3 linked regions of the Homo sapiens genome follow. The protein of the gene in region 1 interacts with the protein of each later gene in a pairwise test. Each region holds a gene or a part of one and is shown in the gene's direction. Other genes may lie near its edges.

The links.
Region 2: the proteins of DYDC1 (region 1) and TXNDC9 interact in binary tests that used the Homo sapiens proteins (3 or more experiments, as listed by UniProt).
Region 3: the proteins of DYDC1 (region 1) and CEP57L1 interact in binary tests that used the Homo sapiens proteins (3 or more experiments, as listed by UniProt).

What each region holds. Positions count from the first base shown.
Region 1 is NC_000010.11:80,336,002-80,339,756, reverse strand, and holds the end of DYDC1 (DPY30 domain-containing protein 1), read left to right. Parts: intron 1-603; coding exon 604-660; intron 661-1,185; coding exon 1,186-1,290; coding exon of another isoform or gene 1,291-1,341; exon of another isoform or gene 1,342-3,571; coding exon 3,572-3,601; 3' UTR 3,602-3,652; downstream 3,653-3,755. UniProt on the Homo sapiens protein: Functions as part of axonemal radial spoke complexes that play an important part in the motility of sperm and cilia. Plays a crucial role during acrosome biogenesis.
Region 2 is NC_000002.12:99,326,306-99,329,960, reverse strand, and holds part of TXNDC9 (thioredoxin domain-containing protein 9), read left to right. Parts: intron 1-2,307; coding exon 2,308-2,426; intron 2,427-3,655. UniProt on the Homo sapiens protein: Significantly diminishes the chaperonin TCP1 complex ATPase activity, thus negatively impacts protein folding, including that of actin or tubulin.
Region 3 is NC_000006.12:109,154,360-109,158,014, forward strand, and holds part of CEP57L1 (centrosomal protein CEP57L1), read left to right. Parts: intron 1-870; coding exon 871-948; intron 949-1,431; coding exon 1,432-1,518; coding exon of another isoform or gene 1,519-1,530; exon of another isoform or gene 1,531-2,438; intron 2,439-3,655. UniProt on the Homo sapiens protein: Centrosomal protein which may be required for microtubule attachment to centrosomes.

The sequences.
Region 1 (3,755 bases):
AGGGTCAGTTAGGCCACCCTGCTGCTTTAGAATGAAAAGGTAGATGGCATAGCAAGGTTTGGCTGACTAGAAGAATGTTTCACATTCAGAAAGAGGCCTCCCTTATTGGGCAGTATATTCCTACTGCAGTGCTCAGAGTATTAAAGAGGGCATTGCTCAGGTCCTGTGGGAGGACTTGTGCATTGGGCCAGATTAGTTCCTGTAGAAGTGTTTACTTCTTTCTCGGTATGTGCAAAACTCTACTTAAGTGTGGTTTTCTCCTTAAAAATCTCTTGTTCTAAGGTTCTATTATAATTTTTATTTTGTCACTTTTTATATTGGCAGATAATTTGGCTTCAGTTTGACTGTTTCAGTCCATTTCATTTTTAAAAAACTTTTATTTAATTATATATAAAACATGGTTGCCTTCTATTAGTATAGAGTATTAAATAAGACTGTGATCTGCAGTTTTGTAATGTGTAATCAGATCATTCTCTTTCAGAGTGACAGCATTTTTGCTTTAAATTCATCATAGCATTGTGTAAAAGTAAAAATGCCAAAAATTAAACATGAAATCAAAATGGAGTATATTCAAAGTATTTTCTTAATTTTTATATATTATAGGAGATGAGAATGAATATGGAAAATCTAGTTAGGAATGAAGATATTCTACATTCAGAGGTGAGAAGAAAAAGTCATTCTATGTTATGTGAAATGAATTGAGTATCCTAGAATGTAAAGCTTAATTTTGATGCATAAGTAGCTAAATTTTTAGCAAGTATATTATCAAAACTGATAGTCCATGTATATTTTCCGGTGATAACAAGTCACAAATAATGTGCTTTGAAGCAAAATCTCACAATAGGTAAAAATTGGACATTCAGTTTGTGTTTGGATTTTTAAAAACTAGGCTCTCTTGAGATATTGAAGCTATTTACCACATAATTACTTACAATTATTTTAAATTTCTGCAGGTATTTTTAAAAAAAGTTCTAGTATTTATTACCAGAATTGTAGCTTTGCATTCTAGGATACTCAATTCATTACCAGAATTCTCTTGTCATTAACAGAAATTGGTTAATTCCACTAATTAATAATGTTGAATTTTAATGTTATAAATCAGAAAATTTTTAATCAAAATTGAAAGAAAAGTAATGTATTAATTTTGAAATCATTTAAAAGTAAAAATCAATTTTTTGATTGTAGGAAGCAACACTAGACTCAGGCAAAACACTAGCTGAAATCAGCGATCGTTATGGAGCACCTAACTTGAGCAGAGTGGAAGAACTTGATGAACCAATGTTTTCTGATGTCAGTATCAGTGTGTTTTGTGAAAAAACTCGTTTTTGTTTTTGTTTTTGATTTTTTTTACTTAGGTAAAGCCTAGGGAAAATGAGGCTAGGCCAGGATTGGTTGGCAAATAGGCCTTTTGCTTCAGAGAAAGAAAATCAGTTCCCTGGTTGCGGATTATATTCCTAATTGGCATTCTGCCCTTTTGTGAAGTGTGTCACTGGCTTATCTATATCTCCGTATCTGTGACTTCAAAACCTCTTCAAAATATGTTTTAAAATCATTTTGTGAAATATATAATCTTTAAATTTGGTGTGGGGGGCACGATTTTTGTTCTCAGTAGCAAACCCTGGAACCAAATTAATGCCTTAATGAGAATGCATGCTTCTCCAGTATGTAAGTACATTTGTTTATTTAAGAAACATGCCACATCTTCCATATGCCAGGCACTGTGCCTGATGCTGTGGTGAATAAGGCAGATGGCTTTGACCTTATGGAGTTTATTGTCAGGGGAGAAACAGACAATTAGATGAACATTTAATAGTCATGGTTAGTGGGACCACATAATTTATTGTCCAAACCAGTATGCTTTTGAGAATGAGAGCCGGATCAGCAGATGTAAGCCAGGACTGTCCTGGAAGAAGGGTACATTTTGGTCACTTTAATTGGTGTACACGGACAAGGGGGGACAGCCAGCACAGTTGAGGAACCTCAGTCAGGGAAGGAAGCTAATGATTTGCTACTCACTGGTGGCATGGGAGGCTGAGGATAGTGCTCCAGGCAGAGAGCATGGAAGGTGTGAAGACCCAGATAGGAGAGCGTGTAGAGGGAGTGAGGCAGGGAGGGGTGAGAGCTGAGGCCAGGGAGAAAGCAGGGGCCAGACCATGAAAGCACTTGTCATTTCTGTTCAGAGGCTTAGATTTTATCCTGAAGGCAGTGGAGACTCATATGATGAGAGCTACATTTTGCAAAGACCATCTGGTAACAGTGTGGGGAAGAAAATGGAGAAGTAGGTGTCAGGAGATGGCTTAGGAGGTAGTAATCTAGGGGACAAGATGTCGATGGCCTGAAGTAAATGTTGTTTTCAAGAGCTGTTCAGAAAATGGAGCTGCACAGACTCAGTGCTAATTGTTTAAAGTTTTATTAAAGGTCAGCTATGATTTGGCACTATGCAGGGAGCTAGAAAATGCCAATGAACAAAATGGATTGGGCTTCTGCCCTTGGGGGCCGTGGGCCAATGGGGAAGCTTCTTTGAGGGACAGAGTAGGGAGAGACCTGACCTGGGCTGGACAAGTCTTCCTCAGGAGGTGAAGTTCAAGGAATTAGCCTGAGATGAGCCCAGAGGAAAGAGACAGCAAAATGCTTTCAAGGGACTGAAGTCATCCAGTATTAATGGCTAACGTCCATGGAGCTAGGAAAATGGTGTGATTTTAAGCTGGAGAGGTGGATAAAGGCAGAGCACACTGGGTCTTGTATGTTGCCTTAGGGATTTTGGACTTAAGTGCAGTAGGAGTTATTGAAAGGACTTAAAGATTCAATCTGTGTTTTTATAAGGTGGAGAGAGGATTGGTGTGGAGCAGGAGTGGAAAAAGGGAGACCACTTAGGAAGTTATTGCACTGATCCAGATGTAAGATGACTAGGGTTAGACAGCAGAGATGGAGGGAACTGAGTGGATTTAAGATTGGCTTACAGGATCAGTGCGGGGCAGGGTCAGGATGAAGCCTAAATGTCTTCCTTGGGCTACTGAGTTAAGAGTGTTAACATTTGATGAGTTGATGAACATAAGAGGAAGCAGGTTTTTAAAAAATGATGGCTTCAGTTGCAGAGATGTTGACTCTCAGGTGGCTCTGAGATATGCAGGTGAAAACAGCCAAGAACAGTTGATGTTAGGAAGGGGCCCAGGCCGGAGATATAAATTCAGCAGTCATGGGCATATGTGCTGAATGAAGCAAGGGGATTGAGTAAGGTACCTAGGAGAGAGTGCAGTGTGTGAAGGCCTGGGGGCTCAGGGAGGAACCATTAGCAATTCTAACATTGAAGGGATGGCCACAGGAAGAGGAGCCTACAAGAAGGATGAGAATGCATAGTAAGAGAAGTAGAAGAAAGGATGGAACAATAACTACTTTGAGAACATAATTTATGGTTATATTCAATTTGAGTATCATTTGAAATCATCTGAAACTCCCAAAAAGTTTCATTCATGTAGTCACATAGAAGTTACCTAAAGTTTATTTCTTTGGCTTGTGCCTTTTCACAGTTCTAATTGTATTAAGGAATATTTACTTTTTGTTTTGCTTTTAGATTGCATTAAACATTGATCAAGATTTGTAGGACCAACCAACCTAAGAGCAATAAATGTTTTTGTTTGTTTCAAATTTCAAACCATGAGGTTCCCAATTTGTATTTTTTTCCTTCAAACTTGAACTCCCCTTTTTTTTTCCTCTAAGGACTGCTTATGAATGGGCTTCAAGAGTAGCCTCAAATT
Region 2 (3,655 bases), on another chromosome or scaffold:
GGGTCTTGCTCTGTCACCCAGGCTGGAGTGCAGTGGTGTGATCTTGGCTCACTGCAACCTCCGCCTTCGGAGTTCAAGCAATTATTGTGCCTCAGCCCCCGAGGAGCTGGGATTACAGGTGTGTGCCAACACACCTGGCTAATTTTCATATTTTTTGTAGAGACAGGGTTTCGCCGTGTTGCCCAGGCTGTTCTCAAACTCCTGTCCTCAAGTGATCCACCTGCCTCAGCCTCCCAAAGTGCTGAGATTACAGGTGTGAGCCACTGCGTCCAGCCTAACAAATACTTTTTAAGGGCACATATCATTGGTAAGTTGTGAAAGCAGTCATGAAATGTCATATGTCATTAGGGAATTGTATTTGAGAGTTAAACTGTGTGTAGAAATTTCACATAAGAAAATATCAGGGTATCCTGCAAGTGTCAGCTCGATGTAAATGGATGTGATTTTGACACCGCAGTCATCAATATAGTCTGGGCCACGTTCACTGACGTCCAGAGGAGGAAGGGAGATGGCCCTCCTGGCTCTTTGGTTGGACCCCTTCTGGAGGCTGGATTCAGACCTCTGTCACATTTTAAGAAGACATTGGTGAATTAGAGTGTGTTTAGTTGATATCCTGGAAGAGTAGGAACTCTAGAAATCTTTTCATATGAGAACAGTTAAAAGGAACTGGAAGTGTTCAGTGTGGAGAAGGGAAAACTTAGGCAATATGTGATGTTTGAAGGGCCCACGTGGGAAAGAGATTAAAACTTTAATCTTTATCCAAGCTGGAATCCACAGACCAGAATTATGGATATATTGCAGTTCAGTGTGAGATGACCTTTCTAACAATTAGTGCAGGTATAGAGACTTTTTAAGCATTTATAAAGTGGTTATCAAAAGCAGACAGGGCTCTTGAGCTTCAGAGCTGCAGTATCCTCCTTTTCTCCCCAAGACGAATTGGGTTTATCTCATAAGCATTATTTTTATTTTTATTTATTTTTGAGACAGAGTCTCACTCTGTTGCCCAGGCAGTGGCGTGATCTCAGCTCACTGCAACCTCTGCCTCCTGGGTTCAAGCAATTCTCCTGCCTCAGCCTCCCAAGTAGCTGGGATTACAGGCGCCTACCACCACAGCTAGGTAATTTCTTGTATTTTTTTTTTTTTTTTAAGTAGAGACGGGGTTTCACCATGTTGGCGAGGCTAGTCTGGAACTCCTGACCTCAGGTGATCCAGCCGCCTCAGCCTCCCAAGGTGCTGGGATTACAGGCATCAGCCACTGCACCCAGCCTCATGAGCATTATTTTTAAAAGACTTGTAGTAACTTGGATCAAATGCTTCTGGTTTTAGTAGTTTAAGAGTACATGGATAGAGTTAAGTGGATATTTACATTCTGAGTCTCTCAAGTCTAAATTTTTATTTTGAAAGTTCTGAGAAAATAGATGTTTTAAGCTACAAAGACAGGTAATTGTCTTGAACCCAGGCCATGCTGTGGAGACGTTCACTGTCCGTAGACTAGTTTTGCATTGACAGTAGAAACAGGAAAGTAAATTGCTAAAAAACATTCATTTTTCTTTGACTTCAGCCAGGCACAGTGGCTCATGCCTATAACCCCAGCACTTTTGGAGGACAAGGTGGGAGGATTGCTTGAACCGAGGAGTTTGACACCAGCCTGGGCGATATAGTAAAAACCCCGTCTCTACCAAAAAAAAAAAAAAAAAATGCCAGGCGTGGTGTGGCATGCGCCAGTGGTCCCAATTCCTTGGGAGACTGACGTAGGAGGATCTCTTGAGCCCAGGAGGTTTGAGGCTGCAGTGAGCTATGATCATGCCACCACACTCCATCCTGGGCAACTTTAGCAAGACCCATTCTCAAAAAAAAAATAAATAAATAACACTTTTGGGCCGGGCGCGGTGGCTCACACCTATAATCCCAGCACTTTGGGAAGCCGAGGCAGGCGGATCACAAGGTCAAGAGATCGAGACCATCCTGGCCAACATGGTGAAAACCCATCTCTGCTAAAAATACAAAAAGTAGCTGGACATACTGGTGCCCGCCTGTAGTCCCAGCTACTCGGGAGGCTGAAGCAGGAGAATTGCTTGAACCCAGGAGGCGGAGGTTGCAGTGAGCCAAGATCGCGCCACTGCCCTCCAGCCTGGTGACAGAGCAAGACTCCGTCTCAAAAAAAAAAAACAAAAACAAACAAAAAAAAAACTTTTTTTTTTAATTGACTTCATTACAAAATACGATGGTGATTTGGACACTTAAAATGTCAAGTGGTTCTGAAAGAGATATCTCACATGTGTAATGTTTTGCCTCTCTCCAAATTAGGAATGGCTTTCTAAAGGACATGGGGAATACAGAGAAATCCCTAGTGAAAGAGACTTTTTTCAAGAAGTCAAGGAGAGTGAAAATGTGGTTTGCCATTTCTACAGAGACTCCACATTCAGGTAACTTTGTTTCCATCTGTGACTTTTTCTAAAAAAACACAGTGAATTGTTTGGCTGGAGATATACTGGCTTACTAGAGAAATGAAGAAAACTAAAAGAAAAAACTTCCTAAGTTGTTTCATTGTACTCTCTCATATGTTATTTAGTATTAAGTTAAGCAGGCAGGGGCCCAGTGACTCAAGCCTGCAATCTCAGCACTTTGGGAGGCCAAGTGGGGGGTGGATCACTTGAGGTCAGGAGTTCAAGACCAGCCTGGCCAACATGGCGAAACCCTGCCTCTACTAAAACTACAAAATTAGCCGGGTGTGGTGGCAGGTACCTGTAGTCTCAGCTACTGGGGAGGCTGAGGTGGGAGAATTGCTTGAACCCAGGAGACAGAGGTTGCAGTGAGCGGAGATCGCGACACTGCACTTCAGCTCGAGCGATAGAGTGAGACTCCATCTCAAAAAAGAAAGAAAAAAAAAGTTAATTGTTATTTTAAAGAGTAACTTAAAGAACAGTTACATGCAAAAGTATAAATGAATATTACTGAAAGTCAATATTCCCATATAAATGGCTTATATTTTTGAATTGTATTTTCACTAGCTAACTAAAAACATCTTAGAAATGTACACTTAAAATTCTTATCACCATGACAGTAATTATTTCCCTCTAGTATTGTGATGTAGCCATGATATTGGGAACGGGCAACAGCTGTTGAGAGTCAGTGTTCCTTCAGTTCCTCCTTGAAGGAACTAGCAACTGTGGTGGGGAGATGGTGGCTTGGCCAAACCTTTCACCAGAGCAGAGTTGGGACTGCCAGTCTTGGCTAGAAGGAGAAGTGATTTTTCTTAGACCACCCTAGGTCTCCAAATTTCTCTAAGGAAGCAGATCTCTTATAAAATGTTAATACCTCCTCAGAAGAGGTCACATCGTAAACCAAAGGACCCAAGCCTTTGTGGTTTTTTGTGCACAGATTTGATTAGTTGCCAACACTTAAAAATCGAGAGATAACTCCTTTTGAAAATATCCACACTTAGAATTTTTCTTTAAAAAATCAGAAAACTTGCTAATAGCATAGCTGGAACTATGATGGCAGTCATCTGCTGACTGGCACCTGCCTACCCAGGACAGACAAGCACTGTGCTCTAGAGTCTCTGGCACTCACTGTGGTTTCAGCCCTGCTCTCTTTCTCATTTCTGTGGCCTTCTTGCCCCTTTGTCTTGATCTCACAACCCAACAGCTTCATT
Region 3 (3,655 bases), on another chromosome or scaffold:
ACACTCAGGAAGTTCTCCCTTTGAAATAGTACTGTCCTCCTATTCTGAACCACACCACAGATGTAAGACATAATACTTACATATATAAGGTTATATGTATATATGGTGCCTGTCAAGTTATTTCCTTGCTTTGTTGTTTTGTTGTTTTATGAATATTGCTCTTTTTTTCTTTTCATACAATACAGGTTGGGTGTCCTTAATCCAAAAATCCAAAATCTGATATACTCCAAAATCCAAAACTTTTTGAACACTAATAATAATGTTCAGAAGAAATGTTCACTGGAGCATATAGGATTTTGAATTTTTGGATTAGGGATACCGAACCAGTAATGAAAATATTCCAAAATCTAAAATATCTCTGGTTCCAAACACTTAAGATAAGGGATCCTCAATCTGTATAAGCTCTTAAGTAACAAGGACCACATTGTATATTTCTATTATGTCTTTTCACTCTTCTCCCAAAAGTACACTCTTATCACATATATGCAAATAGTAGAATTTTTTTTTTATGTTTTGAATGAAACGTTGAGACCCAAGACTATAATTGTTTGACCTGCTACACCTTTAGTACCCTTAAAAGTTTCATCATAATGATTTTGTTGCTGGAAGTTAATAAAGCCTGTGTGTGTGTATATTCTTTGCTTTCCCTTTGTTCTTCTTGTATGTAATAGAAGGTAAAGAAGCAAAGAAAGAAGTGGGAAGAAAGCCAAGAAAAATCTTAACATCTTGTGCCATTCCTTTTTCTTATTTTCTGCCTTAATTTGCCAAACTCTTAAGAATCAAGACCCCCTAGGACTCTATTTGGAAAAGAAACAAATGATATTTGGCTCTAGTTTTTATGTAACAATCTTAGTTTTTACTCTTTTGCAGGACAAGATTAAACATTTAGAAGAAAAACTTAAGGAAGAAGAACATCAGCGTAAGCTATTTCAAGACAAAGCTTCTGAGGTAAATATAGCACTATATAATCTATCACAGTAAACCATATATGTTTTATTATATTTTTATTTTCATTAACTGAAGCCTATGTTCTAGATTCTAATTTCTGCTTCCTAAATTGTCTTTTCGTTACAATAATGAAATTCTCAGTCAGCCAGTATGATACATGGATGTATTACCAAGAGGTCTTTTTTAATCTTTTGAAATTCTGACAAATACATATATTCTCAGTTGAAGGAACTCCTAGGATAGATTGTTTTCAGTTTGATTTCTGTACATATATTAAATAATTTATTCTTTTATAAACAGAAAATTATTGTAATTACCAATAGACTTAGTGACCTTCACATGTACAAAAACGGTATCTTGGATTTTCTTTTCTTTTCTTCTCCAAAAAGCATTTTTATATTTATAAACTTAGACCTGATATCTCATTACAGTGTTTTTGCATGTTACAAATCAATGTTATAACCTTTTTTTTAAATATTACAGCTTCAAACTGGACTTGAAATCAGTAAAATTATAATGTCTTCAGTTTCAAATCTAAAGCACTCCAAGGAAAAGAAGAAATCTTCAAAGGTGTGCATATAAAATTTTTTCCCAAACAAAAATACTGCTAATACTTATTTATATAACCTCTTAATCCTTATACCTACCCCTTTCCAAAAAGGATTTGAAGATATAAAATAAAAGACATGCAATAATGCGTGTCAAGTAATGGATGATGGTTTGGGGTATAAGGACAGAAAATTTCATAAGATTCAGGTTAAAAAAAGTAGCAGCAGTCATGTACAAAATTTAGCTCTGAGTTTGCTTGACAACCAAAGCAAAAAGGAACATATAATGGACAGTATAGCTATCTTTGTGAAATAACAGGAAGCACTCCAGTTTTTCTAGAAAGATTAACATTTTTCTAGTTTTAAACTTCTGGAGAAACATATTTTGTGATAGTTTATAAAAGAGGCAGTAAACAACACAGTAGATACTGACAACATAATAAATCCTGAAAGCAGTTTTATGTAATATATAGACAATAAAAAATAAGGTTTTTCTTATAGACCTGTTAAGTCTGTAAAGTCATTTATATAGGGAATTTATTGTTATATGTAATTTCTATGCTTATTTCTTGTGAATTTGCCCAAAAGTAAGGATTGGAGAGTTAGTACTTTATAGACCAATATTTTGTTTAGATGGATTGATGTTTTGAATGTATGCTATTCAAGTAACCCTTCTTAATTATATATAATGGTATGAAAAAAGTTTTTAATCCCTTTTAATCTTATGATTGTGGAATTATGGTTTTGATGGCCATTATTACTATTTATTCAGATATGAATGGAGTGAGTGTTCTCTGTGCCATTTGTTGTGGGGGACAGGAGATGCTATTTGGGAATTCTGGCCACTGCCATATGCTTAGCTTGTGGATAAAATAATGGAGAGAACAGTAAACTTAACTTTGGCTACTCTTTTATTACGTAAATAAAAATTAATGTTCAATACTTGGGCTGTATTTTTCATAATTTTTTCATTTTAAAGAATTTTCAAACTACAATAACGAACAATATTTCCCCAATATGACTTATTTTGGCTCTTTCCTTTCCTAAATATTTGTTTTGTGTCTTATTTGTGCAATGAGATTCACAGCTACAAAGCCAAATAGAAAAATCACTATAAGTAATTTGCCAGTGGAACACATACTGCCCAGTATGTATGTTTTATGGCATCCTTTCTCTGATGGGTTAATGGAACTTTTTTCAGTTTACCTATTTATTATAAAAATAGTGAAGGTACAGGGAGAAGATAAAAGAAATGAAGGAAAGAAAAGGTAACTACTGGAAGAGAAGAGAGTAATTAACAGCAGAATCATTTTATGGAAGTACTTAGTTCAAATCCCAAGTTCACGGGGTATGCAAATAATGATGTCTCTTTTTAAAGATGGAGGGAGTGCTAAAGTTGCTGAAAGTAGGATCAGATTTCAAGAAGCCTCTATGAGAGATCTGCTTCCCATCACACTGTTTCTCCATGTCCTGGACATAGTTCATTCAACTCTTACATCTTGATGTACATAGACTGGTATCTCTAGGTGATAAAAAGATAAGACAGGAATTTGTGAGAAACAGATAAATATATAAGTATAAAACAGTATAATAGAAGATTAATAGAGGTTTAAACAAAGTGTTGTGGTGCTGTGTAGACAAAGGAATATGTGAAAGGTAATTCAAGAGCAATATTAAAGGAAGCCTTGAAGAATTAAATATTGACAGACTGAGATGAGGAAAAATGTGTTATAGTCTGAGGGAATTGTTGGTTTTTCCAGGGACCTATAAGTAATAGTCCAGTAGTGGGGGTGAGATGGGATCATAATGAAAGTTAAAATGGAAAATATAGCTTGGGGTGAGCTAATGGCTGACCTTGAATGCCATGTTAAGAGTTTGAACTTTTATTCTATAAACAGGAACTATTGAAGGCTTCTGAGAAGAGTAGGGACATGATTAGAGTTGTAATTTTAGATGGTAACTGACAGCAGTAGGAGAGTTTTACAAGAGAGAAATCAGATGTGTAGATTTTTGAGAGAATCATATGTGTAGATTCATGTCACCATCACAATAATCAAGATACAGAACTCTTCCACCACTAAAAAACTCCTTCATGCAATCCCTCTATAGCTACACATCCCCTTCCCTGAACATTGGCAACCTCTAATCTGTTCACCATC